2 separate regions of the Homo sapiens genome follow, and region 1 is linked to region 2. A link means that fine-mapping ties the variant in region 2 to the expression of a gene that starts in the linked region. Tissue or cell type: whole blood. Region 2 holds a variant in brackets; the other region holds the start of a gene. All regions are shown on one strand. Distances are between the middles of the regions.

Region 1 (2,645 bases), 140 kb before region 2:
GTGCAGTGGCACAATCATGGCTCACTGCAGCCTCTGCCTACCAGGCTCAAGTGATCCTCCTGCCTCAGCCTCCGAAGTAGCCAGGACCACCGGTGTGCGTCACCATGGCCAGTTAATTTTCTTAATTTTTTGTAGAGACAAGGTCTTGCTGTGTTGCCCAGGCTGGTCTCAAGCTCCTGGCCTCTAGCGATTCTCCTGCCTCGGCCTCCTAAAGTGCTGGGATTACAGGCTTGAGACACGGTGCCTGGCTGGTCTTTTCTTTATGCTAAAAAAATTCAAACAGATGCTACATTAGAATAGTGCAATAAACACCCAGATGCCCATCAACCAGCTATGACAGTTATCAACTCATGGCCAATCATGCTTCATCTTTAGCCAGACCCTGATTACCCATTTTTTGGGAAGCAAATCTTTGACTGCCTATATTTTTATCCATATATATATATGTGTGTGTGTGTGTGTGTGTGTGTGTATACCTCAGTGAGTGTGTGTGTACCTCAGTGAGGGGATTCTTTTAAAAAATATAGCCACAAATACCATTATTACTCCTAAAAGCCTAAAAACAAAATTTACAGCAATTCCTTAATTTTATCAAATATTATAATTTGACTTAGTGGTTAAATTTCCCTGATTATCTCAAAAATTTTGAACTCAGTAGGTTTGAATTAGTATTTAGATAAGGTTCACATATTGCAGCTGGCTGCTATGTTTTTTTTTTTTTTTTTTTTTTCAGATGGAGTCTTGCTCTGTCCCCAGGCTGGAGTGCGGTGGCGCCATCTCGGCTCACTGCAAGCTCCACCTCCCGGATTCATGCCATTCTCCTGCCTCAGCCTCCCGAGTAGCTGGGACTACAGGCGCGTGCCACCACGCCGGGCTAATTTTTTGTATTTTTTAGTAGAGATGGGGTTTCACCGTGTTAGCCAGGATGGTCTCGATCTCCTGACCTCGTGATCCACCCGCCTCGGCCTCCCAAAGTGCTGGGATTACAGGCTTGAGCCACCGCGCCCGGCCTGCTATGTTGTTTTTTAATCTGTAAGTTTCTCCTTCATCTTCTTTTTGTTTTGGTTTTGCATTTTGTTCGATTACGGAACTGTAGAACAGTGGTTCTTAAACTTAAGTGTGGATTAGAATCATCTGGAGAGCTTGTGAAACCCTGGATTGCTGTGTCCAGTCCCCACGGATTCTGATTCCGTATTGTATTTCTCTTTTTTTTTTGAGACGGAGTCTTGCTCTGTCGCCGAGGCTGGAGTGCAGTGGCGGGATCTGGGCTCACTGAAACCTCCGCCTCCCAGGTTCAAACGATTCTCCTGCCTTGGCCTCCCGACTAGCTGGGACTACAAGCGCGCCATTACTGGGTCTTTGTGAGGATTAAATGAGATTTTAAAAAGTGAAGTGCTTAGCATAGTACTCTGGCACTTACCAAATGCCCAGCAAATTTGACTGTTATTTTTCAACCAAGAAATCATAAAGGGGTGCACGGTCTGTGGAAGGCCTTGAGTTTTGTGGAGTTTTGTGTTTTGCTGCGTTTTGACGTTAGCACAGGCAAGCAGCAGCGCCAAAGAAGTACCTGAAGAAAGGTGAAGAGCAACTCTCCTGGTCACTTCGTAAGTCAGCTCAAAATTCTGCCCCTTTAAGGAGGGCTCAGCCACGTGACCAACCGGGTCACATGGCCCGCGGGACAACATGGCTGCGCCCGCACTAGGGCTGGTGTGTGGACGTTGCCCTGAGCTGGGTCTCGTCCTCTTGCTGCTGCTGCTCTCGCTGCTGTGTGGAGCGGCAGGGAGCCAGGAGGCCGGGACCGGTGCGGGCGCGGGGTCCCTTGCGGGTTCTTGCGGCTGCGGCACGCCCCAGCGGCCTGGCGCCCATGGCAGTTCGGCAGCCGCTCACCGATACTCGCGGGAGGCTAACGCTCCGGGCCCCGTACCCGGAGAGCGGCAACTCGCGCACTCAAAGGTGCTCCATCGATTCCTCCGAGGCGGGTGGGGGCTGCTCGGTTCCTGGACGGGGTTGGAGTAGGCAAAGCAAGGCACTAGTAGGAAGGGAAGTAAAGGTTATAACCACACCCCAAATCGAGCACCTGCTGTTCCCGTATGAGGAGTTCCTTCTCCGTGCCTCACCGGAAGACTCCATTTAATTGACCATTAGGGAGTTTGGTTTGAGGGTTATTGTTACTTCTTTACCCCCTATTTCTTTCTCCCTCCAACCTGTTCTCTTAATGAGGATCTCATAATTTTAAGGCAATCAAATTATGGTTTAAATCACCATTTCCTCTCTTATTAACGGAATAAATTAGGATCCTGGGTCTCAGTATCTTCACCAGGGTTGTTGTATACTTATCTGTAGTCTCCTCGAGTACACTCTGCTTGAGGACAAGGGCTTGAATTGTTTATCCTGCTATTCTTAGCACTTTAGCACTTAGGAAGGGCTAAGCAAACTGTAGTTGTTTTATTGCTATTATTTATCTGTCTTGCTTAGCGCCTGTATGTGTTAGGTGCCGGGATATATAAATAACTTACTGGCCGGGCGCGGTGGCTCACATGCCTGTAATCCCAGCACTTTGGGAGGCCGAAGCGCGCGGATCACGAGGTCAGGAGTTCGAGACCAGCCTGGCCAACATGGCGAAACCCCGTCTCTACTAAAAATAC
Region 2 (2,850 bases):
GATTAGATACTATCTCTACCAGATGTTTTAAGGCATAAAACTTGCTTCTATGATTTGTTTTGATACCTAACTTGTCTATAAACTTATGTCTTTAGATTTATTTATTTATTTAATTTTTTGGAGATGGAGTCTTGCTCTGTTACCTAGGCTAGAGTGCAGTGGCGCGATCTTGGCTCACTGCAACCTCCGCCTCTTGAGTTCACGCAATTCTCCTGCCTCAGACTCCTGAGTGGCTGGGATTACAGGTGTGTGCCACCACGCCAAGCTAATATTTTGTATTTTTAGTAGAGACAGGGTTTCACCATGTTGGCATAGTCTGGACTTGAACTCCTGACCTCAGGTGATCCACCCACTTCAGCCTCCCAAACTACTGGGATTACAGGCGTGAGCCACTGTGCCCAGCCTTTTATCTTTAGATTTAAGTTTTTAGGCTATGACTAGGCCTAGCTCCAGGCATTGTCCTTTGTTCTGGACTTTGCATCTGGTACATAATTAAAACGGCTTACCTCCAAGGTTTTTCACTAAAAATAAGAGTTACTAAAAGTTAACATTGTAATAAATGTATATAATTGAAATTACTAAATACAAGAGAAAAAATTCTCCATCGAAAGTGTATAAGGGAAGTAGGACATGTTTTTGGTTTAAGAAAAGTTATCAGAAGGCATGAAAATGTGGTTTTTGTTAAAAGGAAAGTAATTTTGCCTAGTTTAAAGGTTTTTTTTTTTTAAATTAAAGGAATAAAAAAAGGACAGATAAAACTACACAAATATAAAAAGTTGGAAAAGAAGGTAAATTTTTGTCCTAAAGTAAGATGACAGGACAAAACTGAAGGTTTAAGCAAATTGTAGAAGGTTTGTAGAAGACTGACCTTGTGAAAGGAATTGTATGTGCAGTTAAGTTGTCTAAAATTTAAAATGATTATTTACTTTTTCTATACAGTAAATATTAATATCAAAAGCACATTGATATTAGAGTCTGGGCCCTTGAATTGGAATAACAGAGTTTTACAGGAGCATTGATTTGTTCTTTAATAGAAAACTGTAAAAAGGTTATAAAAAGACTTATGGAAATCTTACTTTGTGATCAAACTGATTGAGATTGAGATGGATTTGTTGACAAT[G/A]TTTTACTAAAAATTGGCTTCAGCATTAGTAATACACTAATGTAATGGTAAAATTTGCTTTTCTCTTTTAAAAAGATTTTTGTGAAATACTAAGAGATAAGAAAACATTTATCTTTTGAATGAGCTGGAAAAAAAGACAGTTGAGTGACAAATTCATCTGGCCTCATGCTGTCTGATTTGGTTTGGCTGTGTCCCCACCCAAATCTCACCTTGAATTGTAATAATCCCATGTGTCAAGGGCGGGGCCAAGTGGAGAAAACTGATTCATGGTGGCAGTTTCCCCCATACTGTTCTTGTGGCAATGAATAAGTCTCGTGAGATCTGATGGTTTTATAAATGGGAGTTCCCCTGCACAAGCTCTCTTGCCTGCCACCATGTAAGACGTGCATGGTCCTCCTTTGCCTTCAGCCATGATTGTGAGGCTTCCCCAGCCATGTGGAACTGTGAATCCATTAAACCTCTTTTTTCTGTATAAATTATGCAGTCTCAGGCATGTCTTTATTAGCAGCATGAGAACTGACTAATACAGTAAATTGGTACTGGTAGAGTGGGGTGCTGCTGTAAAGATACCCAAAAAATGTGGAAGAGACTTTGGAACTGGGTAACAGGCAGAGGTTGGAACAGTTTGGAGAGGTCAGAAGAAAGGAAGTTGTGGGAAAGTTTGGAACTTCCTAGAGACTTGTTGAATGGCTTTGACCAAAATGCTGATAGTGATATGAACAATAAAGTCCAGGCTGAGGTGGTCTCAGATGGAGATGAGGAACTTGTTGGGAACTGGAGCAAAGGTAACTCTTGTTACACATTAGCAAAGAGACTAGTGGCATTTTGACCCTGCATTAGATTTGCAGAACTTTGAACTTGAGAGAGATAATTTAGGGCATCTAGTAGAAGTAATTTCTAAGAAATACAAAGTGTTCAAGAGGTGACTTGGGTATTGTTAAAAGCATTCAGTTTTATATATTCACAAAATTATGGTTTGGAATTGCAACTATGTTTAGAAGGAAAGCAGAGTATAAAAGTTTGGAAAATTAGCAGCCTGATGATGTGATAGGAAAAAAAAAAAACATTTTCTAAGGAGAAATTCAAGCTGGTTGCAAAAATTTGCATAAGTAATGAGGAGCCAAGTGTTAATTGCCAAGACAATGGGGAAAATGTCTCCAGGGCATATCAGAAGTCCTCAGGGCAGCCCCTCCCATCAGAAACCTGGAGGCATAGGAGGGAAAAATGGTTTTGTGGGCTGGGCCCAGGGCCTTGCTGCTGTGTGCAGCCTAGAGACTTGGTGCCCTGTGTCCCAACCACTCCAGCCATGGCTAAAAGGGGCCAACATAGAGCTCAGGCCATTGTTTCAGAGGGTGCAAACCGTAAGCATTGGCAGCTTTCACGTGGTTTTGAGCCTGTGGGTACACAGAAGTCAAGAATTGAGGTTTGGGAACCTCCACCTATATTTCAGAGGATGTACGGAAATGCCTGGATGTCCAGGCAGAAGTATGCTGCAGGGGCAGAGCCCTCATGGAGAACCTCTGATAAGGCAGTGTGGAAAGGAAATGTGGGGTTGGAGCCACCACACAGAGTCCCCACTGGGGCACTGCCTAGTGGAGCTGTGAGAAGAGGGCCACCGTCCTCCAGACCCCAGAATGGTAGATCCACCAACAGCTTGCACCATGCACCTGGAAAAGCCACAGACAATACCAGCCTGTTAAAGCAGCCAGGAGAAGGGCTGTACCCTGCAA

Evidence for each region. PIP is the estimated chance that this variant, and not a neighbour inherited with it, causes the effect.
Region 1: it holds the start of SUMF1, and the variant in region 2 is fine-mapped to the expression of SUMF1 in whole blood (TOPMed, PIP above 0.99).

What each region holds. Positions count from the first base shown.
Region 1 is chr3:4,466,284-4,468,928 of GRCh38, reverse strand. SUMF1 (sulfatase modifying factor 1) reads left to right here and starts at 1,660. Exons shown (of 9, transcript NM_182760.4): 1 at 1,660-1,953. The coding sequence starts at 1,684. It overlaps LOC124909340 (a long non-coding RNA gene), which reads right to left and starts at 2,105. Exons shown (of 2, transcript XR_007095789.1): 1 at 1,421-2,105; 2 at 1-265. RefSeq lists an enhancer at 1,434-1,613 and a silencer at 1,784-1,963.
Region 2 is chr3:4,329,100-4,331,949 of GRCh38, reverse strand. It overlaps a transcript of SUMF1 not described here. Among named protein-coding and RNA genes, the nearest start is that of SETMAR, 27 kb to the right of the region's middle. The variant G/A (reference allele first, on the strand shown) is at 1,121.